Regions from separate parts of the Homo sapiens genome. Here region 1 is linked to region 2. Evidence: fine-mapped QTL for protein levels in blood plasma. Region 2 holds a variant in brackets. A gene starts in the other region. All regions are shown on their forward strands. Region 1 holds the start of ADGRF5 (adhesion G protein-coupled receptor F5). Region 2 has its middle 7.5 kb from the start of NID1.

What was found. PIP is the posterior inclusion probability: the model's chance that the variant is causal. Protein levels are from antibody-based Olink assays in UK Biobank. Linkage for the fine-mapping came from a reference panel and not from the study's own genotypes, which makes the PIPs less certain.
Region 1: ADGRF5 starts here. The variant in region 2 is fine-mapped to the plasma level of the ADGRF5 protein (UK Biobank, PIP above 0.99).

The regions. Positions count from the first base shown.
Region 1 is chr6:46,913,842-46,929,583 of GRCh38, forward strand. It overlaps ADGRF5 (adhesion G protein-coupled receptor F5), which reads right to left and starts at 8,097. Exons shown (of 21, transcript NM_001098518.2): 1 at 7,872-8,097. It overlaps LOC105375080 (a long non-coding RNA gene), which reads left to right and starts at 8,238. Exons shown (of 3, transcript XR_001744147.2): 1 at 8,238-8,594. RefSeq lists an enhancer at 12,535-13,734.
Region 2 is chr1:236,065,191-236,079,960 of GRCh38, forward strand. No RefSeq gene overlaps it. Among named protein-coding and RNA genes, the nearest start is that of NID1, 7.5 kb to the left of the region's middle. RefSeq lists a silencer at 1-160. The variant G/A (reference allele first, on the strand shown) is at 1,827.

The DNA of each region.
Region 1 (15,742 bases), not on the chromosome of region 2:
CTGTATTAGTACAAAATCAAGGGAAATCATACCTCTTACTAAACCTTGGCCTGCATCTGGCTAACTAGACACACTATTGTGACCTTTGAAAACAGCCAACGGCATATACCCTAATGTCTCCCAAACCTTGTGTTCTGGGATACAGACTACGATCAGGCAGCCCTTTTGCAAACATATACTTATCAAAATAGAGACTAAATGAGCCTGAAAATAGATGAGCACATACAAGCATTCTACTACTAAAGAATAGAGTTACTTTTAATGGTGGATGATAGATGGCAATGCCAACTTTCAGGAGGACTATCATTGCAAATTTTACTATGATTATTACTCTGCTCATCTCCATGAGATACAGAGTTGCAATAAGGATAGAATGCCATCAGCAACCTACTCCCTGAACTGTAGAAGTACAGATTAAAAAACCCTTAAGTGTAACTTTAAGAGCCTGCCTTCATAAATCTGTATTTTCAGCTGCAGAGGTGGTAAGACTTATCTTTGCTGACCTTATTTGATTAGATGATTCATCTCCTGCACAAGCAAAAATATAAGCTAAATATTTATTTAACACAAACATGGGACACAATAACAATTAAAGAACTGCCTTGAAGACATTTTTTTTCCTATTTAATTTTCCATTGCCTTGAAATCAGGCCCTGCAGCAGCATTGTGTCAGGGCAGTTCAGTACTATCAGATTACAGGGGAACATTTGTTTGTACACAATAGGATCAAGTTTTCCAAAACACACTGCACATGTGGGCGGCGTTGATAACCTTTTATCCCTCTTTTCTTGTTGTTAAGTCACTGTGGGTCTTAGGCTTTAAGCAAAAGATTGCCATCTATGTGAAAACATTGAGTTCCTAACTGCTCTTATCTAGTCCGTCTTGCATTAATTCACCATGTGGAGGGGTTTCCCTAAGCCATGGCAAAACAATGCCCAGGGGTGCATTCCAATTGCAGACGGAGGGAAGCCCTGTGGAATGGGTCAGGTTTTTGTTGTTTGTTTTTATTTTTTTTGTTTGTTTGTTTTTTTTGAGACGGAATCTCACTGAGACACCCTGGCTGGAGTGCAATGGCATGATCTTGGCTCACTGCAACCTCTGACTCTGGGGTTCAAGCGATTCTCCTGCCTCAGCCTCCCAAGTAGCTGAGACTACAGGAACATGCCACCATGCCCGGCTGATTTTTGTATTTTTAGTAGAGATGGGGTTTCACCATATTGGCCAGGCTGGTCTTGAACTCCTGACCTCAAGTGATCCGCCCATCTCGGCCTCCCAAAGTGCTGGGATTATAGACGTGAGCCACTGCACCCGGCCCAGTTTGTTCTATACTCAAATGTTATGTGAGAAAACTTGGCAAAGCTCATTTTACATTAGGTTGTTCTCAAGCTTCACAGTTCTGTGGTTCTACCATGTGTTAGGTAAGCTCCAAAATAATACTTGACTATTTTAATAATAATAATAATAATAATAATAATGGACCAATCAGAACAATCTCTGTCCACTGTGCAGGAGCAGGGCCTGGGGGTCTCCTGCTGGGCTAGACCTTAGCAGTGTCATTGCTGGATTGTAGGGAAGTCTGTGTAGGATCCCAGGAAAGGGACTGGATGACTAAAGAAGAGGTGGGGAGGCACTCCAGGGGCTGGAGGAAGCAGTTATTTGCAATGTGGCTTAAAATATTCCAACATTACAGTAATTGGCAGGGCCACCTTAGCCTTCTGCACTTCCTCCCTTTATGGCCCCCATCCATTCCATCTCTCTGAGAAATGGCTTTGCTGTCCTTAGCCAATGACTTCTCTTCTAAATCTTCATTTCCTTCTTCAGGGATTTTGTTAGATTTTAACCATATAATGTGTGTGCTATTCAGAATGAAAAAAAAAATATTACTTTATCCCCCCACCCCCAACCCCAAGAAATACAGTACCCTGAAAAGTCCTTGCTAGTTCAAGATTTCCTTACTCTGGACAGTTTGACTTTAGTCCTCACCTCATTATGAAAAGTATTCTGTAGAGGCAAACCCACAACATTTGCCCCAGTCCTCACTCTCCCTGGCTTGCGGTGGGTACCTGCTCCATTTGTGCATGGCCTCCTCCTCTGCAGCGCTCCCTTTCCCTTTCCCTTTCCTGGTTCTCAAGGCTCCCGAGCTTATGCCTTTTCTCCTTCTATGCTCCCATCCTCATCATCCTGCAGCTGCCTCACTGTGCGCCCTGCCAAATACCTCTCCTGGGTCTACAGCTCTTCTCTCTTGACACCTTCTTATAGTAAGCTCATCCACTTCCATAGTTTTAATTGTCAGTTTATGTGAGAATTCCCAGAACTGTATTTCCAGCCTCTGACCTTTATGGCATATTGCCTCTTTTCTTGTCCCCAAAGATATCTCTTTCCTCTGCATGCCTATTTCCTCTCTTTGCTACATATTAGGCATGGCTTTTCAACTATACTCTTTCCACTTGAGTGTAAATTCAGATCATCGAAAACTGAACTTGTCTCCTGTCCCACTGCTCTCTCCTAACCCATCCCTTCCCAGATGTGCCAACTGCTGGCTTCATTGTTTCCTAGGCTCACAGCTTCACAGGTGTCCTTGGACACAAGAAGTGGTGCAGGAGCAGAAGCAGCAATTCGACCGGGTACTAAGTCCTGTTACCTGCTGCTGATGTGCTCAGAGCCCCTCATCGGTTTGGATATTGTCATCTCACCACACTTTTTTGGACATTGGGCCACTACATTGGTTGGGACATTATCATCTTACATCTAGATGGTCTCAATAATCTCCTGAATGGGCCCCTCGCTCCTTTCTTCCCTGACCAATAATCCAACACAACAGCAGGGAATTTATTTGCCCAGAGCACTATTCTTCCTAAATTGTGGCTAGATCATATTTAAATACTTTAAATGTTTGCAAATGCCCAGAGAATATTTAAGCCAATTCACCAGGCAAGCATGATCACCACGACCTAATGTAAAATGAGCTCTGTCAATTTTTCTCCCATAACACTTGAGTATAGAGCAAACTGACCCACTCCCAGCTTTTATTGTACCTTCTTTTGTCATAAATATTAAGAGACAATATTAGTGGAATGCATTGCTACCTTGCAGCTTCTTCTCGCGCTATTCTTGGTAACTGAAATGCTCTATTTCTCCTTTCTGAGCTTTACTCATTATTTCAGGTCTTGCTTATTCATTTGGTAACAACAATTACTATAATTTATCAAGCACTTGCTGTGTGTCAGACACTTGCCATATGGCAAGCATTAGGTTAAGCACTATACATGCACTAGACTCATTTAATCTTTATAATCCTGTTTATGAGAAGTATCATCATCTTCATTTTACAGATGAAGAAACTGAGCCTTGGCTAAACAAACACACTTGGCAAGTGGCCAAGTTTGTCTCCAAAGTCTGAACTCTGACCTTTATGGCATATTGTCTCTTATTTTGTCTTCCCCAGAGATATATCTTTCCACTGCATGAACCGCATTTCTCTCCTCAGCTACTCATCTGGTCCTGCCATGTGGATCACTTTTCAGCACTGTGTGTTTTTCAGGCATAGCACGGTAATTAGGCATATGGACTCTGAAGTCAGACTGCCTGAGATGGAATCTTAACGTGCCTCTATTTGCTAGCTTTTTGTCTCAAGTGATTTACTTAACTTTTCTGGATCCCCCATCTATAAAATGGGGATTATGATTTTATTTGAGGCATAGGATTATTGGAACAACTAAATGGGTTAACAATCATGTTTATAAAACACTGAGTATGGTCCCTGGCACATAGCAAATACTCGATAAATATTGTTTGTTATTTCTCCTAATGCTATCCCTCCCCTAACCCTCACCCGCCCCCCACAGGCCCCTGTGTGTGATGCTCCCCACCCTGTGTCCATGTGTTCTCATTGTTCAACTCCCACTTATGAGTGAGAACATGCAGTGTTTGGTTTTCTCTTAGAAATACCTAATGTAAATGAGGAATTGATGGGCACAGCAAACAAACATGGCACATGTATACCTATGTAACAAACCTGCACCTTGTGCACATGTACCCCAGAACTTCAAGTATAATAATTAAAACAAATTCAATCAAAAAAATTGTTTGTTATTAAAATTCTCAATGCCTGTAACTTGCTTTCCACTAAGAGTCTGAGCTGATTAAGAGAAAGGTTCTTTGCCTTTGCAATTCCACAGCACTTAGCAAGTCACTCCAGAGTAGGTGATTCTACTAGGCTGTAATTTTAAAGATTTCACGTTGGCGATTACCTTTTAGGAAGCCGGGAAGATTCCAGTTATTTTAACCATCATGACCAGAGTCACACCATGTGATTTGAAATGTTGAGCTGGTAAGTAACTTGTGAATCATGGTGTGCCCTTAGCTAATATGTATATTTAACTCAACCATCCTTATTAGAGCACCTACTCTGTGCAGAAACTCGTAGGTCCTGGGGAAACTGAGATAAATACTGAACAGGCCCGGTAGTCCTCTCTATCAAGGAGACAAACATTGCACTGACGAGAGATACTAACTTGAACTATATCAAGAAATGTCAGTGGGGAAAAGGCTGTAGGGAAACGTTATAATTAAAAAACATCCATGACTTATCATCTATTCATATTTAGTTCAACCCAGAAAGTGGCAGCTCATGCAAAGGATAATCAGTATTTCTTTTTTTCCCCTTTCTCTTGGGATTGGGACACAACATGGCAAAGTGACCTTGAATAAAAAGTATGATCTGATAGTCATCTGGCATTAGAAGAGCACATCCTGTTTATCTAGAACATTTAATCTGCCTTTGTAAAATCTGCAAGTCTTAGGGAGCCAACATATCTACAGTGAAGTCAGTGGGGTTGTTCCAATTAAAACTGGAAAGTCAATGCCATTGTTGGAGGTGTCGGAAATCTCCTCTTCATTCTGATGTGCAGATGTGTCTGTTCCTCCGAAAGACAGCAGCAGCCAGAATTCTAATGATCTGCACTGCTGCTGACACTTTTGGTCCTAATTTCTTGGCTTCATAAACAGCCATTGCTTCTGCTTCTCAGTTTAGCCACTGTATCTTACACAGCCAAGACTCAGTGAATCTCAACCCCAGCTGCATTATAGAATCACTTTGGAGATTAAAAACAACAAACAAACAAAAAATCTAACCATGCCCTGGCCCCATCCTCAGAGATAGTGATTCAGTTTCTCTGGCAAAGTGTCTAGACATTGTTTTCTCTTTGTTAAGTTCCTAGGGTGACGCCGATGGACAGCAGGTGATAGAACTTGCTAATATCTGGACAAAGCAATAGTTTAGTCTAACTTTAGATTCCCAGCAAACATCTACCATGTGGCTACAAAGCTGACAGAATCCAGCCAATCGCATCAATTCTCTATTCCACATGACTTTTATCCTCATAGTACTGACATAAAAAAAATGGGGCTGCAAAGACAGTAATCTGAGTTTCTTCTCATCTCAGTCCTCCAAAAAAATTCATTGTGCCATTGAGGCAAATAAATTAACCTCTGAACTTCCTGTTTTTGTATTCCATTAGATGAGAATAAGTTACCTGCTTTACCTGTGACATGGTGAAAGAAGAGGCATAAAAGTCTTTTGATAACTAAAAAGTTGCATATAAATACAAGAGATTGAATGCATAATATTTAGGAGGAGACAGATTAGCCTCATTAACGTGAGGAGGTGGGACCCCATGGGATATTTTTAACTGCTCCAAAATGCCCCCAAGTACCCCATAGCGCAGTAAGTGAGGTTACTATATCATAGTCAATAAACCCACACTCAGTAAGTGAGGCAGTGTTAGTCTACAGGGCCTCAGTGGAGGTCTCTCATGTGGCTAACACTGTGCACTTGGAAGAAATGATTCATCGGAGTAGCCAGAGATCTGGAGAAGGGACAAAGGCAGGCAAATTTTACAGAACGTCCAAAATCAGCAAGGCCTAGTGGCTCTATAGTTTGGGGTGGAGAAACCCTGTAAAGAACAAGAAAATATGAAATAGCTATTGAAAGTGTTCGTATTATTCTTGGGTTTGATACTGCTTATTTATACCTTTTTCCCAAAGGCTCTCTCCATAAGCTGTATTAACTTGTTCATAGTGATGTTTTCCTTATTTGCTTGTCTCTTAACATTGTTGGTGGGGAGGGGAAGGCCACCTTTTTACAGAAGACTAAAAGAGATGGAAAATGAACCGATCTGTTAAATGCATTTATTATCCACTGAATAAAAGGGCAATCTCTCCTGTCTTCACTCTACGTTCTCTGGGCCACTTTATCTATCAATCTAGCTATTATCTATCTAGTTAATTTCCTGTTATTTTATCTTCTCCCCTTTCATTTCTAGAATAAGAAACTTCTGATGCCCTTCAAGGGAAAAGCCCAAACCACTAATTGGCAAATCTAGAATTTAATCCTTAGGAGGTTGTTACTAATATTATTAATTGTCAAAGCCAAAACCAACACAAAATAGTAATGGTAAAAATGAGTAAAACTCTTTATACTTTTCTAAGAGTTAAAAGAGCTATTCATGTTTCCCATGTATCATTTTATCTTTCACTGAGAGGAAGGAGTTTAGGATAAATCACAAGAACTTGACAATGAGAATTTATTGTACTCCTGTGCCCCGGCTTGTCCTATAGAGCTCAGAAGAACAGAAAATAAAGCCTTTAACTGGTAACACAGAAAACAATTGATAGAATAATATTTGGGGGGGGGGAAGAGAGTGTATATTGGGGGTGCAATTGAAAACTGTTAACAGAAAGCTGGCTGCGATGGCTGACACCCGTAATTCCAGCATTTTGGGAGGCCGAGGCAGGTGGATCACCTGAGGTCAGGAGTTCGAGACCAACCTGGCTAACATGGTGAAACCCCATCTCTACTAAAAATACAAAAATTAGCAGGGTGTGGTGGCGGGTGCCTGTAATCCCAGCTGCTTGGGAGGTTGAGGCAGGAGGATCGTTTGAACCCGGGAGGCAGAGGTTGTAGTGAACCAAGATCGTGCCACTGCACTCCAACCTGGGCGACAGAGCAAGACTCCATCTCAAAAAAATAAAAATAAAAATAAAATCTATTTAGAGATATTCTTTTACGATAAGAATATAGTCAAGTATTATCTGTGTAATTCAAAAATAACCTACATTGAAAAACCAACTACGTTAGCCCTTTATGAAAGAAAAAATGCTGTAGTGAAGTGGCATGACCTGGCTTTCTGAAATATGAGAAAACATGGTTTAAGCAAACCGCACATCATAGAGTTGCTCCTTTCAAAACAAGTCGGCCTGGCCCTGAAGCCCCAGCACTTTTACTGACCTCCTTCCTAATGCTGACTACAAACTCCTTTCCCCTCAGTCCTGTGTGGGAGGCTGCAGCCTACATTTTACATTTCTAAGGTCATCCCTTGTCCTTTGGAAGGACTCTCCCGAAGCTGAGCGAATAGCCAGGGCTCCCTCCTCCTGCTACTGGGATGCAGCCTCTTCCTTCCTCAGCCTGACCACAGCAATGGCCGACTGGCCCTGAAATGCTCTTGGCAAGAGCAGCAGCTCAGTAGCTCATGAATGCACTGGTTTTTATAGTATTTTCTGGTTTAAGGACGAGAGAACTTGTTTGAAAAAAAAAAAGTCTGTTATTAAGAAAATCCTAAAGGATCCCAGCTAGTTGCTTGATACGCCATCTCCTTTAATATAGTCTCATTAACTGGACCAACAGTATGCACAATGCTCTTGACTGGACATACTTAACTTTCCCAACATACATATCACACCTACGCAAAAGAAAAGCAGGCAAAGAGGATCGTAAGTGGAAGATGTCTTAAGAGAAGTGACTTAGGAGCCCCTGAGGTCTTGCTACAAAGGGAGACAGAATGACAGACCGCAGTAGGAGAAATGTCTGTTACCTGTCCAGCACTGTGGTCCCCCGGCTGGCTCCCGCTCTGATCAGATGCCTAAAAGCTTCCCAGTTTCCACTATGGGGCCATTTGTCCTGGGCCTCCTGGGCAGGGGCTCTCACGCCCAGTGGAGGGAGAACCAAGCAAGACTCATTTCGCGTTTTCAGGCAGGACTGGCAGCACCGCTCCCACGCTCAGCCTCCCCCAGCTATGATCCTCCCAGTCTCACAGAGTCATCCCTGAGAGCCGCGCTGCTGTTTTAAAAACAAAAAGTGATTTCCTGGTCCTCTTCCCCGGATGGCGTGTGCGATTTCCCTCACGCCCATGGGAAGTCCTTCAGATCCTTCTTATCTGGAAACCTCTCCACCAAGTGGACAGACTTGTTTGGCCAATGCCCCTAGTTCTCACTTTTCTTTCTCCAAAGAAAAAAATCAGAAAAGCAAAACCAGAGCAAACCAAACATAGGTTAGAGCTAATGAGAAGTACAGGATGTCTGGTTTCAACTTTTAAAAGATGACCACTAAATTAGATTGTAACTTCAGAGAGGAAGGAAAATTAAGACTATCGATGAATTCTTTGTCTTTAGCAGTGCCAAGAAAGCAGAGAAAAAAAGAATCCGCAGAAGAGAAGAGACCTAGAGAAGTTGCTTAGTCCTCCCCCGCGGGAGGGCTGTACCTCAAAAATGCCATATTGGAGGGACGTCCAGTTCTCCTAGGTTTCCAGGGAAACTCTGTGAGTATTTGTGTATCAAACTATAAATTTAGTGGTACTTAAAATACCGCTCAATAGCATGGATATTTAAAGATAAGGAGATATATGGTAAAGGCCTGGTTGGCAGGCTGCATCCAGGTTGCTGGGTTTAAAGATGAATTATAGTCAGCTCATTTTTGAACTGGAAGTGACCTCACTGATCCTCATTTTACAAAAGAGGAAACTGAGGCCCAAGGAGAACCCTTCCCAAGGTCAGAACACGGATGGGGAATGCTGTTTGACTCTCTACTCTGGAGCTCTGCCCACAGAAAGTTTGATGAATGAGGCCTGGCTTGGAATCGGCATTGGAAATAAGTGCTTCGGGTGAGTCCCATGCAGGTAGTCCCAAGAGTATCTTCAGGGAATTCCTCATAGTGTCAAAGAAAGGACTCTGGAGTCAGACTGTAGGAACTGATGCTTTAGTCCCACCAATTATATGTGGCCGGGTACACATTACTTGACCCTATTGAGATTCAGTGTTGTTTTGTTTTTAGACGGAGTCTCGCTCTGTCTCCCAGGCTAGAGTCCAGTGGCGCGATCTTGGCTCACTGCAACCTCTGCCTCCTGGGTTCAAGCGATTCTCCTGCCTCAGCTTTCCCAGTAGCTGGGACTGTAGGTGCCTACCAGCACATCTGGCTAATTTTTGTATTTTTAATAGAGACAGGGTCTCTCCATGTTGGCCAGGCTGGTCTCAAACTCCTGACCTCAGGTAATCCCCAGCCTCGGCCTCCCAAAGTGCTGGGATTACAGGCGTGAGCCACTGCTCCTGGCCCTGAGATTCAGTTTTATTGTGTGTGAAAGTGGGATAATAATAGTACTGAGTTTATAGACTCTGCTGAAACTGAAGAGGAAGAGTTTAGTAACTGTTTGTTGTTCTCTGGAGCCCTGGGCTCCAATGCCTCCAAGTTCATCCTCTCTCCCCTCCAGCTGCCTTCCCTTCTTGTCATGCTATCAGCCTGTAGCAAGTCAGCAACCACCAGCAGGACTTAGGCTTGAGACCAGAGTATTTGGGCAAGAAGAGGATGAACTCCAAAATGTTATTATTCCACTTCTAGATAATGATTCTCAACTGTAGTCTACACGTTAGATTGGATACACCCTAACTTAAAAAGAGCCTGCTGAGGGATGCAGTTCCTGGGCAAATGCTGCCTTTTTTCCTGCTCGTATTTTGGTTGTTGGGTGCAGCAGGCTGTCTAACATGGAATGGGCGTTGTCAAAGTGGCTGTCCCTTTCCTTCCCTGAGGAGCAATTCTTCTCGCCCACAGTTCCCTGCTTGTTGTTAGGAACACTATGTGCTTGCTGCACACACATTACAATGAAAACAAAAGCAAATAAAAAATGCAACCACCATATGGCCTCAGCGGCAACCCAGAATGAACTGTGGATGGAGAGACCCTGCCCTGTCGTAGCTACGGCTGGAATTGACTGTCACAGCAGCCGTTTTCTTGAATTCTAAAACGTTGGTGTTGGTGGCTGAACCCAAATTTCTTGAACCCAACTGCAAACGTAGAGAGAATAATTTACCAGTCATGTTATCACTTTGTTAATATGAAATGTCTCTCATGGCTGTAAGGTACAGTCTCATTAGAGACAAAGCTCCTACTTTCTCAGGAAGAAATTTCAGCACCAAATAAATACATATTTTCCAGCATGTTCCCAGCTGTTTCACTTCTGCCCTTCTTTCACTCTGCCCTTCTCCTTTCTTCACACAGGTAACGTTTAGTCTCTTTTTAAGTTCCAGGTGTTATTTCTTCCAAGGACCCTCCTATTTCTCCCAGCCTGAGCCAAGTATTTCTTCTCCCTGATCCCACACTGCCAGATGCATGTCTTTTTGAAGTTACCACACTGCATTCAAACAATCCATCTAATGCATTGACTGTAAGCACCTTGAAGGCAGGCACTAGTCTTATTTATGTTATGCCCAGCTCGTATTACAGTGCTGGTATATAATGGGTTATCAATAAAAGCAAGCAAAATTAAACTCTGCATTTCATTTTCCATTGCTGGTTCTTCCTCTTAACGTAAGAGTGTCTCATAGCTCAGTCTTTGAAACCCTTCTCTGTTGACACTTATTTCCCAGGTGATCTCTACTAGTTTTGGCTTAAATCTTTGTGCTGATGACTTCCAAATGTCTATCTCTATCATAGACCTCTCACCTGAATTCCTGACCCACGTATTCAACTGCTTACTTGATATCTCCTTTCAGTTGTTCAATAGGCCCTCAAACAGAACATGTCCCAAACTAAACTCCTGATCATCCCTCCCAAACTAGCTATACCATCAGTCTCTCCCATATTAGCAAAGGGCATCTCCATCCTTCCAGTTACCCAGATCAAAACCCTAAGAGTTATCCTTGAGTCCTACCTTGCACACTTTACATTTAATTTGTCATCAAATCTTGTTAGCTCTATTTTCAAAATATATGCATAGTCTGGCACTTCTTCCCCTTCTGCTGCTATCATTCTCATCCAAGCCATCACTATCTCTTGACTGGATAATCACCAGTGTCTTATCTGTCTCTGTGCATCTCCTCTTGTCACTTATAGTCTGTTCTGAAGACTGCAGTTAAAATGGTCCTTATAAAATACAAGTTATATAAAGTCCACACGTGCTCAACTCATCTCCCGTAGTCAGAGCACAGGTCTTTTCAACAGCCAGTGAGACCTTCATGATCTGCACCACCTTCTCTCCCCATCATTCATGTTGCTCCAGGCACACTGGCCTCCTTGCAGACCAGGCAGTCTTGCATTTCAGGGTCTTCACACTTGCTGTTCTCTCTGCCTGCCAGGGATGCTCTTTGCACAGATTTCCTCAAGACTCACTCCATCACCTCATTCTCACTTTTGCCCTAACATTGCTTTCTTAGTGAGGCCTTCATTGACAGCCATATCTTACATTTCATCACTCCACATCCCCCCTACTTGCTTTAGTTTTCCATATCATCTCTGGTACACTATAATACACTTTTAAATTTTGCTGGAGTCTCCACCTTGCATCCCTGGACTAGAAGGTAAGCTCCTAAGTCGAGTGCAGTGGCTCATGCCTGTAATCCCAGCACTTTGGGAGGCCAAGACAGGTGGATTACTTGAGGTCAGGAGTTCGAAACCAGCTGGCCAACATGGCGAAACCCTGTCTCTACTAAAAAATACAAAAATTAGCAGGGCGTGTTGGCAGGTGCCTGTAATCCCAGCTACTCAGGAGGCTGAGGAAGGAGAATTGCTTGAACCTGAGAGGCAGAGGTTGCTGTGAGCCAAGATTGCGCCATTGCATTCCAGCCTGAGTGACAACAGCAAAACTCTGTTGCCTGCTTAACTGACTCATTGCAGAGGAATATTTGAAAGTGTAACACACAAGCAAAATTATTAACGCCACAGCCCTGGCCAGCATAGCTAAAGTACATAATAGTTCAACTTGTGAAATTCTCCTACCTTCATATCTTGGCAGGGTAAGCCCTGCTTTTTTTTATTTTCTTTTATTTTTTAAGCCATAACCAGACGTTGGTAACCCTTTTGACCCAAGGTCAGCTCTCTTTTGGTATTTCTATATTGAGGCCAAGAAAATTCTCCTTTGGCACTGATCTGTCCTTATACAAGGAAGGAACTGGCAAATAATCGGGCAGTTTCATAGTATACAAATGGTCTTATTCTTATCTTGGGTGTGTATATTTTGGCAGAGCCTCCACTAATGGAATTGGTCATATCTGTGCTTAGCTGCAGCCACTCAGATTTTGTTTGCACTTACTGCTACTGCACCCATTCCACCAATAGACAGTGTTATTACACCTTCTTTGTGTATGCTTCTCTCAGACATTGATGTTGTTTTGCCCTGGAAGATTGCAAAGCTTCCATTTTTTGAGCCAACTGGACACAGTTGACAGCTCCCTTCCAGCACTTGTTATGACTCCAGTGATGCCCCAGCTTCTGCCAGAAATCCAAGTCACCCTCCAAGTAGGACCCTTTTCTGGATTCTACTCTTAGCACTACCCCCTCTGCCATCTCCTAGAAGAGGGAGAGACAGCATCTCGGGTGAGGGGGGGGGCAGTGCAGATTTGAGGTATGGTTCGTTGAGGTGTCATCCACACTTCTTTCTTGACCCTTATTGATCTATCCTCGGGGAGCGCTGACCACCAATGGCCTGTGAGCCGTCCACAGCCTTCACATTCCACTTTCAGCTCTTAGAGATGACATGCTGTCTATGTAGCAGGAAGTCACTTCTGATGCCCATGGTATGAAATACGTCACCCACATGCCTCAGCTGTGATGCACATAATTTCAGAATCATCGACTTGTCATTGACTCTTCCTCCCTCAGTCCCCTCCAACCCAGTCCCATGGAGAAGAGCAGGTATTTGAGGACATGGCATTCCTTCTTGTCTTGGCCTAGGAGGGAATCTATTTAGAAGGAAGCTACACTTTTCCTCTCAATGTACACATGTCATTTTGTCCATGAACACTGGGCAGTCACTCCTGTTTTAACCTCTACTTCTTTACGTACATCCTGGGTGCGGGCACTCTCCAATGGCGGATACCATATACTGCAGTAACAGCGAGGCTGATCTGCAAACATCAGGCAGAATCCTGGTTTGGGACTGCAAAGCCCTGTCCTCACAATACCATCTCCCATCCAAATTCCATCATTCTATGCTATTTTCAGTGCTTCAACATTTCCTTTGACTCCCAAAAAAGTTTCCCTCATTTTTACCTCTGATTGTAGAGATAATTTCCTCAGAATTTATCAAGGCGATTAGTGAACAGTCATAATGCCAAAACCACTAGACAAATATGTACTGAAGAGTCATCCATGCCAGGAGAAAATCAGAATAAAAAAATGTTAGAGCAAAGGGCGGCGGGGGTGGGTGGAGGGGGGTGGGCAGAGCTAGTGATCATTTGTTCCAACTATTTAGTATTAAAGTTGAAAGGCTTAACCAAGGTCACAAGCAGCGTTAGTGTCAGAGCCAGACTTAGAATTCAGATCTTGTGTCTCTGCATCCCGTGCTGTTACCTTATGCTCTGGTGAACCCCCAGCCCCCACCAACACATGCATTCCCATCCCCAATTTTCTGGTAGGAGAAATAATGGTTGTAAGTAGAATAAGGACACATAGAGGTAAACTCCTGTTACACCTCTGTACTGACGAGAAGAATAAAAACTCTGTCAACATTTATCCTCTCTTTATTTATTAAATCCAGATAACACATCTGACGCAAGCCAGCAACAGAATTTCCTTGTTAACATCATTATCACAGAAGTAGACCAGCACCAGTTAGGCAGTCTCTTTTCCATCCACAACCCCCAAGTCCCACCCACTTACCTAGGTACCAGCTTTCATAGAGTACTCAGAACAGCATCATAATAGGCGATAAAGGCCTGAAACCTCCTTCTCAGACAACACCCACAAACAAAGCTTTGCCATCAACAAGTCAACAAGCAAGCTTTATTGCAGAAGTTTCTCCACGTTGTACTTCCCCAGGCTAGAATTAAGCTCACATCATGCCAAATAGCTGTATTGCCCTCTTGAGACAGACGCATAGGCTATGCTCTGGCTAAAATGCTTCAATTTGATTCTTACCTGACTCTAACCAGGGAAATACTGAAAAGTGGGGTGACAACCACAGGAACATTTGAGGGGACAGAATAACTGACCCAAGTCAGATTGGGTTCCAGACGAAGCATAACCCAAATGCCTGCTGTGAATCCTGGTCTATCAAAATTCTAGATAAAATTGCTTTTCTCCAGCTTGTGGAAGTTCAGAGCCCACCTCAGGGTGCCTGGGAATTCCTAAGGATGTTTATATTCTCCTGGCCTGGTCAACCCATAGAACTGCCACATTCCTAGTATGTTGTGTCTGTGTGGCTCTAGGTTGGTGCAAAAGAAAAACAGCCCCTTTTTTGAATTTCACCACACACCCAGTAAATGTGAACCTAAAGTTTGGGGGTAAAGGAGTGACTAAAGTCATATTTACAACCAGAAAAATAACCAAGTTGTGACTGGAAGGGTGGATGTTACTATTTTATTGGGATATTCTGACCACCTCTTCACTGAGCGCTCCATAGACTCCCACCTTCTCTAGTGCCAGCTTCCCACCATCTTGCTGACCTCTCTTCCCTTCTTCCCTGTAATCTCCACTCTTCTCTCATTGGCTCCTCTATCTATGGGGATAACAAACATATTCCACCCCTCACTTTATGCATGAGGCCCTCTACTCTCTTAGAGGTCTGAGTCTCAATTGCTTTCTAGGTGCCTATCACACTATTTTTCTAAAGACGGTTTCTTCCCAAGGAGGACTAAAATGCTCACCATCACTGGCCATCAGAGAAATGCAAATCAAAACCACAATGAGATACCATCTCACACCAGTTAGAATGGCAATCATTAAAAAGTCAGGAAACAACAGGTGCTGGAGAGGATGTGGAGAAATAGGAACACTTTTACACTGTTGCTGGGACTGTAAACTAGTTCAACCATTGTGGATGTCAGTGTGGCGATTCCTCAGGGATCTAGAACTAGAAATACCATTTGACCCAGCCATCCCATTACTGGGTATATACCCAAAGTATTATAAATCATGCTGCTATAAAGACACATGCACACGTAAGTTTATTGCGGCACTATTCACAATAGCAAAGACTTGGAACCAACCCAAATGTCCAACAATGATAGACTGGATTAAGAAAATGTGGCACATATACACCATGGAATACTATGCAGCCATAAAAAAGGATGAGTTCATGTCCTTTGTAGGGACATGGATGAAGCTGGAAACGGTCATTCTCAGCAAACTATCGCAAGGACAAAAAACCAAACACCTCATGTTCTCACTCATAGGTGAGAATTGAACAATGAGAACACATGGACACAGGAAGGGGAACATCACACACCGGGGACTGTTGTGGGGTCGGGGGAGAGGGGAGGGATAGCATTAGGAGATATACCTAATGCTAAATTACGAGTTAATGGGTGTAGCACACCAACATGACACATGTATACATACATAACAAACCTGCACGTTGTGCACATGTACCCTAAAACTTAAAGTATAATAATAATAAAATAAAAATAAAAATAAAAAAAAGAAAGTAAAAAGATGAAAAAAAAAAAAAGATATCCCTTTCTCTTACCCCTATATTGGGAC
Region 2 (14,770 bases):
ACCCCGGGAAATAGGGGAGGGGAGCGGAGGGGAGAGCGGAGGGCCCCGCCCCGTCCAGCGGGCGCGCCGCGGGGCAGCCCAATGGCCGCGAGGGGGAGGGCGAGGGGCGAAGCCGAACCTCCCGCCTTGGGCGCCGGTGCCTGCGATTCTCGAAACCAGCCCGACTCCCAGCGAACGGCGCCTCCGGGAGGGGGAGCAGAGCGCGGGACCCGCACCGTGGTCCTCTGATTAGGGTTGGGTCGTGGAGAGCCGGCGACGTGGAAACGCTCCGGATTCAGGAACGGCGCCCACCCCATTGCCGCTCGGCCGCGTCCGGGGTCCAATTCGCTTGACCCTGGTAGGAAGACGGGGTGGGAGCTGGGAATCAGCCAAGGGACAGAGCCACCAACACGTTCATGGGCTCATCCACCCATTCATTGCGCGTTTTTTGAGTGCCTGATCCTGTGCTCCCTATTGTGGAGGTTCGCCAGGAAACGGGGTCTCACCCTCCGAGGCAAAGTCACCAGTGTACAACACAAGCCAGTGTCAGATGGGGGCCCCAAGTCATCAAAGACATTAGGGCTGGAAAAACTGGCGGGGAAAGCTGCAGGTGGGACGGCGGGAATCAACCCGGGTGCTCTGGAAGGAATGGGATGTCATCAGGCGGCAGAGAAGGGAGGTGGAGGACCGAGCTGGGTTTATTCAGGGCACCATCCCCCAGCAGAGGATGTGGGGAGGGACCGGTTGAAGTACAGCCTTGAATCACAAATTTAGGAATTTGAATTCGCTCTGTCACTCGGAGAAGAAACTATTGAAAGTTCTTGACAAAGGGAGATAAGCGATTTAAGTGGTATCCTGAATAATCGGTTGATCGTTACTTTGGCACTAGGGTGAAAGTAGAGACAGGTAAGTTATTAGAGGACCAAGTCTAAAACATTGAAATGAAAGAAGGAGCAAATCCTGATTATAAGATTGGCATTGAAGAGGAGAAGAAACGAAGTTAAAATTGAGTTCAAGGGTTTGCACTTGGAGGACTGGAAAACCAGTACTGCCTTTTGACGTCAGGGAAGAGGATCTGGGACAGCTGGAGTTGGATATGTTTGATGTCAGACCTATCAGCGGTCAACAGGACGTCCCCGTTTCCTGTCAGCAGCTAAAAGTAACGACCTTGAACCTAGTTTATAATAATTTTTCAGAAAACAGCAAATTCTGTATAAAATTTAGGGGGCATGAGTTCTGAACCAGCAAAGACAGGAAGAAAAAGCAAAGGAAACATGCCTTCTAAGCAAAACACTTTTGATTTACTCATGAGAACTTGTCTTTTTCTTTTGAATTCATTCGCCATCAGAAATAACATTTATTACCCATCAGAGACAGCATGTGTTCTACAAGTATTCATTCATTTTGCACTCACAGTAACCCTAGGAAACAGACCTTCCCTGTTTTACAGAGAAGGGGCATAGAGGCCCAGAGAGGTTAAGTCATGTTGCTAAGGTCATGCAGCTGGGAGCCGGTAAGTGACCCTAGGTGTTCCAGCTGCAAGGACCCCACTTATAACCACTGCATTAAGTGCCCTCTGTTTACTACCTTTTACTGCAGCCTGCAGTCTGTTGTCAAATATGGTGCTTTTCCTTCAGTTCCCTCCCAACAATACAGCACTGTGAGCCCCCAGCCTGCTCCCCAGAAGCACTTCTGACTCTACTCTATGCCATCTGTGTTTCTGACTATTTCTGGGCTTCTGGGCCCCAGCACTGCCTGTTTCAGCTGCTACAGGATCTCTGTATGGAGATTCTTCTCTATCTTCACCCGCACGTGACACGGGCCCCACGACTTCCCCATGCCCTGTG[G/A]TTGAGGGAAACCCCAAGCTCAGTAGGCCTTTTTTGGCCTGTGCCTTCAACACTCCTCCTTCAAAAAACCCCACCCCAGCCTCTGTCACACATCAGAGCTGTCTCTGAAGCTGTAGTCTGTGCCTGGAATGCTCTTACCCTTCTCACGAATTCTCTCCCTTTTTGGTACTCAGGCAGCTTCTGAAACTCCTATTGGTCCATCCATGGGACTTTCCTCAGCAACTACAGGAGGAGAGCAGTTCTCTACTTTGCTGGTTCAGCACAGCCTGAATCCAACCTGGCTGAGGTCAAGGCTCTCCATTTACTGGCTGTATAAGCACGGGCAGGTTTCTAAGCTTCAATATCCTTGTCACTTGTATGGGATGTTCATAGTTAAAATCGAAGGATTGTCGTGAGGATTAGATAAGGTGATTCATTAAATGCTCCTAGCTGGGCACAAAGTAAGTATTCCGTTAATATCAAACCATCGTTGTTACCTAAATGTACAGTTTTCGTGATTCTTATTATGTCAATATTTACTGAGAATCTACCATGAGCCAGATTCTATACTAGAAATTCAAAATGCCAAGACCGTTAAGGCACAGTCCTTTCTTTGAGAAGCTCACAATCTATCAGGGAGACAAACACAACAATAACAGTGCGATGCTTTAAGAAATACACAAACCAACAAGAGATATCGCTTGTTGAATGCTGCTTCTGCTAGATGCTTAATGTAGCATTCAATTTAATACTAATAACTGCACAAGCTAGTAGCCCTATGTAGTGAAAACAAGGTTTGCAATGATTAGATAACTTGCCCAGTTTTACACAGGTAGTGAAAGAGCTAGGATTTGAATCCAGTTTGTCCGACACCAAAGCTATTATTCTTTCTGCCGCGCCATCCTGCCCATCTATGGAAGGAAAGGTTTCTCCCTTTATTTCCACCCACAAGATCTATTTGCTCCATTGTTTATACATAATGCTCACGATCTATCTGTGCATGCTTGTGCTCCTTTATTTCATCAGTATCTCTTGGCCTGAGTAAGTCCAGTATATACGGTAAATTCTCTGTCATTTACTATTTATAGCCCTGCACTCGCCTCACATTGCCCAGTCCTTGTAGGACGTAATATTGATGCTGTGTCTCCTACTAGGACAGTGTGTCCCTGTCACTCCTTTAGAATTAGTAGTTCCAAACACATTCATCATCGAATACTTACTTTTATATTGTGCTCTGGACATTTTCTAAGTGTATATAATAATTCGGTCTTTTTCTCTAGTCATTTCGTATGTTTTTCGGGGATAAGAGCTCATTGGGGGCAAGGCCCATGTGCTTTATTTGTTTTCCTGACTTCGCAGAGCCTAGCCCAATGCTGCATACACATTAATAATGTGCACAGTTCTTAACCATTTAAGAACTCACTGATATGTTTAAGAATCATCTGATATCTGCAGTACCAATGGTACCCATAATTCTGTAATATACCAGCTTTAAAAAAAAATGAAACCTTGCTCTTTTGAGATTTATACTCTTTTCTTGATGGCTGTCATCCTGATGAGGCAGAAACACAAAATTTAAGAAGCAGGTCTCAGGCTGTGTGTCTATAAGAAGCCACGGTAACTTTTCTTTTTTTGTGTGTTTGATTTTTGAGATGGAGTCTCCCTCAGTCACCCAGGCTGGAGTGCGGTGGCGTGATCTCGGCTCACTGCCACCTCCACCTCCCAGTTTCAGGTGATTCTCCTGCCTCAGTCTCCTGAGTAGCTGGGATTACAGGCATGCCACCACGCCCGACTAATTTTTGTATTTCTAGTAGAGATGGGATTTCATCATGTTGGCCAGGCTGGTCTCGAAGTCCTGACCTCAGGTGATCCTCCTGCCTCAGCCTCCCAAAGTGCTGGGATTACAGTTGTGAGCCACCACACCCGGCCCCAAGGTAACTCTTCTCTCTGACGATTCAGACAAAAGTCCAGGCAGCTGAGTGGGAAAATAGCTCAATTGGCTATTGCTCTGAAGGAGGCATTTGTTCTAATCTCACTCTCCTGTGAGGATTGGTAACTGACCATGTATGGCCATGGAGCTTTCTTTTATTTTCCAGATGTCATATAGATGTGAATGTATTAGTGTTCCAATTCCAGGGAATTCGCCTAATTCATGAATTTTTTTTTTAATTTTATTTGAGACGGAGTCTCGCTCTGTTGCCCAGCGTGGAGTGCACTGGCGCGATCTCGGCTCACTGCAAACTCCGCCTCCTGGGTTCACGCCATTCTCCTGCCTCAGCCTACCGAGTAGCTGGGACTACAGGCGCCCGCCACCACGCCCGGCCAATTTTTTTTTTTTTTTTTTTTTTTTTTTTTTGTATTTTTAGTAGAGACGGGGTTTCACCATGTTAGCCAGGATGGTCTTGATATCCTGACCTCGTGATCCGCCCACCTCGGCCTCCCAAAGTGCTGCAATTACAGTCGTGAGCCACCGAGCCCGGCCAATTCATGAGTATTTTAAACAACCCACACTCAATTGTGATCTCAGATAAAAATGACACCCTTGGCCGGGGGCGGTGGCTCAAGCCTGTAATCCCAGCACTTTGGGAGGCCGAGGCGGGCGGATCACGAGGTCATGTGATCGAGATCATCCTGGCTAACACGGTGAAACCCCGCCTCTACTAAAAAAATACAAAAAATTAGCCAGGCGTGGTGGCGGGCGCCTGTAGTCCCAGCTACTCGGGAGGCTGAGGCAGGAGAATGGCATGAACCCGGGAGGCGGAGCTTGCAGTGAGCCTAGATCGCGCCACTGAACTCCAACCTGGGCGACAGAGCGAGACTCTGTCTCAAAAAACAAAACAAAACAAAACAAAACAAAAAAACACTCTGACAAAGGATGAGAGTGAAGCAGGATTTGGTGTTCACTTTATTCTGTTTTCAAAGGCGATTAGGATAAAAAGTACCTTGGGAAAACACAATTATGTCCACCTATGTTTGGGAAGATGCCAAGCTTTTCAGGGTAAAGTTTAATTCCTATAGTTCTACATCCTGTTTTCCCATGAACGTTTTCCTGGTTCATTATCATCAGACCTCCAGCATTCACTGCTGGGGTTCCACTTGCCTTTTGTTGTTATTTTAATTTTTAATCTTGATTTATGTAATTTTCAACCTTACATAAAAATTGCAAAAATAATACAAAACGATTCCATATACCCTTATATTCCCATATCCCATATACTCAGATTTTCCTTAATATTAACATTTTGCCATGTTTGCTTTCTCTCTGTCTTTCTCTCTCTCTGTCTGTCTCTCTCTCCACACACTCACACATGCATGCACACACACACAGACACATCGATACATATATATATACATAAATTTTTATCTGGACCATTGAGGGTAAGTTGCAAACATGATACCTCTTTACCTCTGAATGCTTAAGTATATGCTTCTTTAAAACTAGAACATTCTCTCACCTAGCCATAACACAATTGCCAAAATAAGGAAATTAACATTGATATCATACTATAATCTAATTGACAGCTCTTATTCAGAGTTCACCAGATGTCAATATAATGTCTTTTAATAGCAAAAGAAAATACCAGATTACAAACTGCATTCAGTTGTCATGCACTTTCAGTCTTCTTCAACTTGAAAGAGTTCCTCAGTCATTCCTGATCTTTCATGACCTTAACTTTTTTTTTAGAGATGAGATCTAGCTATGCCGAGGCTGGAGTGCAGTGGCTATTCACAGATGTGATCACAGCATGCTATAGCCTCAAACTCCTGGACTCAAATGATCCTCTCACCATAGCCTCTCTAGTAGCTGGACTACAGGGACAAGCCATTGAGCCTGGCCCTTGACATTTTTTAAGAGGACAGACCAGTTATTTTGTAGGCTGTCCCTCAGTTTGGGTTTGTCTGGTGTTTCCTTCATAATTAGATCAGATTTTGCATAAATTTTGGCAGCAGTAACAGAGAAGTGATATTGTGTCCTTCCTAGTGCAACATATCAGGAGGAACATGTCCATTTGTCCTAATGCTGATAGTGTTTACTTTGATCACCTGGTACATTTATACCTCCTAATTTCTCCACTGTAAAATTACTAGGTTTTCTTTTCTAATTAATAAATATATTGGAAACAGATAATTGGAAACTACATAAATATTCTCTTTCATTAAACTTTTACCCTCTAATTTTAACCCCATTAATGACTCTTACTAGAATCAATTGTTATTGTAATGGTTGCAAATATTTTTCTCTCTTCAGTTACTGAAAAAGAATTTTATTTGGTAAACTACACATACATAATATCTCCCATCTTAACCATTTTTAAGTGTAGAGTTCAATCGTATTACATTCAATGTATCAAATGGTAGTACATTCATACTGTTTTGCAACCATCACCATCATCCATCTCTAGAACTCTTTTCATCTCACAAAACTGAAACTCTGTACCCATTAAACAATACTTCCCATCCCTCCCTCCCTCAGCCTCTGGCGACCACCATTCCACTTTCCATCTCTAAGAATTTAACTACTCTAGATGTTATATTAATGGAATAAGACACTATTTGTCTTTTTGTGACTGGCTTATTTCACTTTGCATAATGTCCTCAAGGTTCATCCATATTGTAGCATGTGTCAGAATTTCCTCCCTTTTTTAGGTTGAATAATATTTCATTGCATAGGCTGGGTGTTGTGGCTCACATCTGTAATCTCAGCATTTTGGCAGGCCAAGGCAGGTGGAGCCTAGGAGTTTGAGACCAGCCTGGGCAACATGGTGAAACCCCATCTCTACAAAAAATACAAAAATACAAAATTTACAAAATACAAAAATTAGCCAGGCATGGTGGTGTGCACCTGTAGTCTCAGCTACTGGGGAGGATGAGGTGGGAGGATCGCTTGAGCCTGGAAGGTCAAGGCTGCAGTGAGCTGTGATCATGCCACTGCACTCCAGCCTGGGTAACAGAGTGAGATCCTGTCTCAAAAAAGAAAAAATAAATAAATAATTGTATGTATGTAGTGCCTCATTTTGCTTATCCGTTAATCTGTGTGTGGACATATGTGTTGCTTTCATGTTTGGCTATTGTGAATAATGCCGCTTTAAACATGTATGGACAAATATTTCTTCAAGACCCTGTTCACAATTCTTTTGGGTGTATACCCAGAAGGGAAATTGCTAGATCATGCGGTAATTCTATTTTTAATTTTTTGAGGAACTGCCATACTGTTTTCCGTGGCAGCTGTACCATTTTACATTCCCACCACCAGTGTACAAGCATTCTAGTTTCTCTACGTACTTTGACAACACTTACTATTTTATATTTTTTAATAGTAGCCATCTAATGGGTATGAGGTGATATCTTATTGTGGTTTTGATTTGCATCTCTCTAATGATTGGGGATATTGAGCATCTTTTCAAGGGCTTATTGGCCATTCATACATCTTGTTTGGAGATATGTCTATTCACGTCTTTGTTCATTTTCAATCAGGTTGTTTGGTGTTTTTGGCAGTGGTGGTCATTTTTAAAGTTTTCAATTTGAAAAATTTCAGGCTGGCACGGTGGCTGATGCCTGTAATCCCAGCACTTTGGGAGGCCGAGGAGGACGGATCACCTGAGGTCAGGAGTTCGAGACCAGGCTGGCCAACATGGCAAAACCCCGTCTTTACTTAAATACGAACATTAGTCAGGCGTGGTGGCATGCATCTGTAATCCCAGCTACTTGGGAGACTGAGGCAGGAGGATCACTTGAACCCAGGAGGCGGAGGTTGCAGTGAACCGAGATCGTGCCACTGCACCACAGCCTGGGCAACAGAGTAAGACTCCATCTCAAAAAAAAAAAAAAAAAAAAAAGGTGTGGTGCACGGTGGCTCACACCTGTAATCCCTGCATTTTGGGAGGCCGAGGTGGGCGGATCACAAGGTCAGGAGTTCAAGACCAGCCTGGCCAATGTAGTGAAATCCCGCCCCTACAAAAAATACAAAAAAAATTAGCCAGGCATGTTGGCAGGCACCTGTAGTCCCAGCTACTTGGGAGGCTGAGGCAGGAGAATCGCTTGAACCCGGGAGGCGGAGGTTGCAGTGAGCCAAGATTGCGCCACTGCACTCCAGCCTAGGTGACACAGCAAGACTCTGTCAAAAAAAAAAAAAAGAAAGAAAGAAAGAAAAAAAAAAGAAAGGAAAGAAAAAGAAAGAAAGAAAAGAAAGAAAGAAAGAAAGAAAAGAAAGAATTGATTTCAAACCCTCAGAAAATTTGGTGAAAAAAAAAAATACATCCAAATGCACCAATTACTGGACATAGAGGTTCAGGCCTATACTCCCAGCATTTTGGGAGGCAGAGACAGGAGGATCACTTGAGGTCAGGAGTTCAAGGCCAGCTTGAATAACATAGTGGTACCCGTCTCTACAAAAAAAACAAAAAAAAATTTGCTTTAATTAGCCACGGGTGGTGGCATGTGCCTTGAGTCCCAGCTACTTGGGAGGCTGAGGCAGGAGATCACTTGGGCTCAGGAGTTTGAGGCTGCAGTGAGCTCTGACTGTGCTACTGCACTTTAGCCTGGGCATGAGAGTGAGACTCTGTCTCAAAAATCAAATGAAAACCAAATGCACCAATTGTTAACATTTTGCCATATTTGCTTTACCTCTTTGAACCTCTCTGTATGTTCTTATTGTTATTTGCATAATCATTTGAGTCAGTTGCAGATATCATGACCCTTCATGCCTAAATACTTGTACATAGGCCTCCTAAGAACAAAGACTCTCTTTATAACCACAGTGTACTAATCGTACGTAGCAAACACAATTCTATTGTCTAAATATACAATCTGTATTCAAATTTTACCAGTTGTTCCAATAACCTTTTTAGTTATATTTTTAAAAAATGATCCTCTAACCCAAGATCATGCATTGCATTTTGTGATTTTCTTTCTTTCTTTCTTTCTTTCTTTTTTTCTTTCTTTCTTTCTTTCTTTTTCCTTCCTTCCTTTCTTTTTTCCTTTTTTGAGACGGAATCTTGCTCTGTCTCCCAGGCTGGAGTGCAATGGTGTGATCTTAGCTCACTGCCATGTCCACCTCCCAGGTTCAAGGGATTCTCCTGCCTCAGCCTCCCAAGTAGCTGGGATTACAGGTGTGCACCACCATGCCTGGCTAATTTTTGTATTTTTAGTAGAAATGGGGTTTCGCCATGTTGGCCAGGATGGTCTCGAACTCCTGACCATGTGATCTGCCCGCCTCAGCCTCCCAAAGTGCTGGGATTACAGGCGTGAGCCGCTGCACCTGGCCTGTCCTGTCTCTTTATTCTTGGTTAAATTGGAATAGTTTCTTGGCCTTTCTTTCTTGTTCATGTTATTGACATTTGTTAAAACAGGCCAGTTGTTCTGTGGATTTCTCAATTCAGGTGTGTCTAATTGTTCTCTTATAATTAGATCAGGGTTATGCAATCTGGCAGGAATGCTACAAAACTCACGGGGTGTCCTTCTCAGCGCATCTCATCAGGAGATCCATGATGCCACTGTGTCCCGTTACTGCTGCAGTTAATGTTGATTGATTGATTCGAGTGATATCTGCCAGGTTTCTTTACGTGACTCTTTTAAAAAGTAAATTTACTTAGTAATATTTCCTTAAATTCCAAAATTATTACTATTATTACCAACAAAGGCATTATCTTTCATATTCTTAGAGTTTTAAAGCATCTACATATTATTTAATTCCATTTTGGAATAATGGAATTTTTAATTCTGTTGATATCAAATTTTAAGTTGATATCCATTTTCTCCTAAATATTTTCTCTCCAAAATCATTTTTGAAACAGCATTTTTATAACTATGCTATATCCCAGGACAATATTACAAGAAGGTATTAGGAGGTTAATCTTTTTGTTTGTTTGTTTTGAGATGGAATTTCGCTCTTGCTGCCAGGCTGAAGTGCAATGGCGCAATCTCAGCTCACCACAACCTCCACGGTTCAAGTTCCGCGGTTGAACTCCCAGGTTCAAGCGATTCTCCTGCCTCAGCCTCCCAAATAGCGGGGATTACAGACATGCGCCACCACCCTCAGCTAATTTTGTATTTTTAGTAGAGACAGGTTTCTCCATATTGGTCAGGCTGGTCTTGAACTCCTCACCTCAGGGTGATCCTCCCACCTCGGCCTCCCAAAGTGCTGGGGTTACAGGTGTGAGCCACCTTGCCCAGCCAGGAGGTTAATCTTAAAAGCATATATTTATGGCTTCTCAGTACCTGTTGTTAATTGTCTTATTCTAACAATGCACTCCCATAGGTTAATTGGATCAGTCTTAATAACCCATACTGACCATTTATTCATCAATTAATATTTATTGAGACCTCACTATGTACCTGGCACAGTGCTAGACATTAAAGGCACACCTAAGAACAAAATATGGTCACTGTTCTCTTGAAGATTACATTCTTATGGGGAAAGACAGACACTAAAGGAATGAATAAGCAATTATATAATGTGTCAGATGGAGATAAAGAAAAGTGCCATAGAAAAAAATTAATTCACGTAAGAACTTACAGAGTGGAGGCTGGGCACGGTGGCTCACGCCTGTAATCCCAGCACTTTGGGAGGCCAAGGCGGGCAGATCACCTGAGGTCAGGAGTTCGAGATCAGCCTGGCCAACATGGCGAAACCCAGTCTCTACTAAAAAATGCAAAAATTAGCCAGGCGTGGTGGTGGGCACCTGTAATCCCAGCTACTTGAAGGCTGAGACAGTAGAATCGCTTGAACCCGGGAGGCGGAGGTTGCAGTAAGCCGAGATCACACTATCGCACTCCAGCCTGGCTGACATAGTAAGACTCTGTCTCAAAAAAAAAAAAAATAAAAAAAGCTTACATTATAGAGTGATGTGGTTGGGTGTGAGAGGTGCAATTTTATTTTGGTATATCAGGAAAGTTCTCTATAATCTCTTCAATACCTTTGGGGCAGAGTCCTAAGAAGTGAGGGAGTGAACCGACTGGGTAGGTTAAGGGAACAGCTGAGGCCGCATTTGGTCCTGGGGACCACAGGTGCAAAGTTCTTGAGCACGAGTGAGCTGCCAAAGGTTGGCAAGAGAGCCAGGTGGGTGGAGCAGGGTAAGTGAGAGATAGACCCCTTGGCCCCACAGGCCATAGTAAGGACTTTGGACAGCATCTGAAAATAGTTCAATGGGCAATAGCAAAAGCAGAAAGAATCAGCCAAATTTACAGAATACGTATTTTCATGAGTTAGTTAAATTGCTGCCTTTGGTTATGGAAAACATTGAAGATAGTACAAACCTAGCAAAAGACAGCCAAGAAAGAATTCCAGTGCAAGACTAAATGAGATATTATCATTGGAAAGGTAGAAAGAAAAATCGCAAAATGCTATTGTCTTCTCATTGAACTTAAGTACAGTAACCTATAATCTACTGCTTGTTCTAAAAATGCAGATTTGTTCCACCTGGATGACATACAGGCATACCTCAGAGATATTGCAGACTCAGTTCCAGACCAGTGCAATAAAGCAAATATAGCAATCAAGTGAAATTACACAAATGTTTTGGTTTCCCAGTGCATATCAAAGTTATGTTTAGCTGTAAAATCTCTGGAAGAAAACCTAAGTAATACCATCCTGGACATAGGAGCAAGCAAAGATTTAATGACAAAGATAGCAAAAGCAATCACAACAAAAGCAAAAATTGACAAATGGGATCTAATTAAACTTAAGAGCTTCTGCACAGCAAAAGAAACTATCAACAGACTAAACAGACAACCTACAGAATGGGAGAAAATATTGGCAAACTACACATCTGACAAAAGTCTAATATCCAGCATCTATAAGGAACTTAAACAAATTTACAAGACAGGCTGGGCACGGTGGCTCATGCCTGTAATTTCAGCACTTTGGGAAGCTGAGGTGGGCAGATCACCTGAGGTGAGGAGTTCAAGACCAGCCTGGGTAACATGGAGAAACCCTGTCTCTACTAAAAATACGAAAATTAGCCAGGTGCAATGGCATGCACCTGTAATCCCAGCTACTCAGGAGGCTGAGGCAAGAGAATCGCTTGAACCTGAGAGGCAGAGGTTGCAGTGAGCCATGATTGTGCCACTACATTCAAGCCTGGGGGACAGAGTGAGAGCCCATTTCAAAACACACACACACACACACACACACACATTTATAAGACAAAAACAAACTACCCCATTAAAAAGTGGGCAAAGAACATGAAAAGACACTTTTCAAAAGAAGACATATGGGCCGGGCGCGGTGGCTCATGCCTGTAATCCCAGCACTTTGAGAGGCCAAGGTGGGTGGATCACCTGAGGTCGGGAGTTCAAGATCAGCCTGACCAACATGGAGAAACCCGTCTCTATTAAAAATACAAAAATTAGCCAGGCATGGTGGTGCATGCCTGTAATCCCAGCTATTTGGGAGGCTGAGGCAGGAGAATTGCCTGAACCCAGGAGGCGGAGATTGCAGTGAACCAAGATCGTGTCATTGCTCTCCAGTCTGGGCAACAAGTGTGAAACTCTGTCTCAAAAAAAAAAAAAAAAAAAAAAAGAAGGCCAGGCGCGGTGGCTCATGCCTGTAATCCCAGCACTTTGGGAGGCCAAGGCGGGTGGATCACGAGGTCAGGAGATCGAGACTATCCTGGCTAACACAGTGAAACCCCGTCTCTACTAAAAATACAAAAAAATTAGCCGGGCGTGGTGGCGGGTGCCTGTAGTCCCAGCTACTCTGGAGGCTGAGGCAGGAGAATGGCATGAACCCGGGAGGCAGAGCTTGCAGTGAGCCGAGATCCCACCACTGCACTCTAGCCTGGGTGACAAAGTGAGACTCCATCTCAAAAAAAAAAAAAAAAAAAAAAAAGACATACATGTGGCCAACGATCATAAAGAAAAAATCTCAACATCACTGATCATTACAGAAATGGAAATCAAAGCCACAATGAGATACCATCTCACACCCGTCAGAATGGCCATCATTAAAGTCAAAAAATAACAGATGCTGGCAAGGTTGAAGAGAAAAGGGAACATTTATACTCCGTTGGTGGGAATCTAAATTAGTTCAACCATTGTGGAAAGCAGTATGGCGATTCCTCAAAGAGCTAAAAGCAGAACTACCGTTCAACCCAGCAATCCCATTACTGGGTATATACCCAGGGGAATATAAACCATCCTACCATAAAGACACATGCACGTGAACGTTCATAGCAGCATGATTCGCAATAGCAAAGTCATGGAATCAACCTAAATGCCCATCAATGACAGATAGGATAAAGAAAATATGGTACATATACACCAAGGAATACTATACAGCCATAAAAAAGAACAAGATCATGTCTTTTGCAGGAACATAGATGGAGCTGGAGACTATTATCCTTAGCAAACTAACACAGGAACAGAAAACCAAATACTGCATGTTCTCATTTATAAGTAGGAGCTAAATGATGAGAACTCATGGACACAAAGAGGGGAATAACAGACACAGGGGCCTACCTGAGGGTGGAGGGTGGGAGGAGGGAGAGGAGCAGAAAAAATAACTATTGGATACTGGGCTAAGTACATAAGTGATGAAATAATCTGTACAACAACCCCCCATGACACGAGTTTACCTATATAACAAACCTGCACATGTACTCCTGAACCTAAAATAAACATTTTTTTTTAAAGTTATGTTTAGGCTGGGCGTGGTGGCTCAAGCTTGTAATCCCAACACTTTGGGAGGCCAAGGCGGGTGGATCACCTGAGGTCAGAAGTTCAAAACCAGCCTGGCCAACAGGCCAAACCCGGTCTCTACTAAAAATACAAAAATTAGCCTGGTGTGGTGGCGCACGCCTGTAGTCCCAGCTACTTGGGAAGCTGAGGCAGGAGAATCACTTGAACCTGAGAGGAGGAGGTTGTAGTGAGATTGAGCCACTGCACTCCAGCCTGGGTGATAGAGCAAGACCCTGTCTCAAAAAAAAAAAAAAAGAAAAGAAAAAAAAAGTTATATTTAGCTGGGCCTGGTGGGTCACACCCGTAATCCCAGCACTTTGTGGGGATCAAGGTGAGAGGCTAGCTTGAGGCCAGGAGTTTGAGACCAGCCTGGGCAACAAAGTAGGACCCTATCTTTACAAAAGAAAAAAAGAGTCATGTTTATACTATACTGTAGTCTATTAAGTGCAATAGCATTATGTCTGAAATAACTATGTACATACCAAAAATACTTCATTGTCAAAAAATGCTGACACAGAAACATGAAGTGTGCGCACACTGTTGGAAAAATGGCAACAATAGACTTGCTCAATGCAGGGACATCATAAGCCTTCAGTTTGTAAAATACACTGTATCTGTGCAGTGCTATAAAGTGAATCTTAAAAAAACAAGATGTGCCTTTATCAGGGAATAAATTGCATAATGTGAATGTCGCACTTTCTCATGTGAGATTTTGTCTTTGAAAAACACTGGATGAACAAACACAGAATACTGCACCCGGGTGAACTGAGCTGCATTGGGGTGCACAAAGCGACACATGGGCCACCCTGGCCAGGACAATGAGCCACCCCCACCCCCACCTGGGGTCCCAACTTTCCACACCGAATTTCAGGTGCTGCTCCTTCCACCCCTTCACAGTAACTCACAAGTAGCCACCTTTCCAAAGGCCGCTGGGCTGTGTGGTCCTAAACTCGCCTTCTCTTTAATTTTCCCTTCTTCCTTCTCAGCCTACTTTACGTATTTCCTCTCTGTTCTCTTTCTTTTCCTCCCCTTTTTTCTCTCTATCTTTTGCTCTCTTCCTCTTTTACACAGGTGGTGGGCCTGGGAGCCAGCCGGTGAGTGGGCAAGAGTGTAGGTGAACACCCTGCATGGGAACTTCAGGTCTTTTGCGAGCTGATGTGCTGTCATTGTTGTATTTTATATGCATTTCTTAACCATGGAACATGTATGAAACTGTGCTGCCATTTTTATTAGGTTCCAAGGTTGTTAACGTCACTAATGAAGTTTTCGAGTATTCTACTCCTAACCTG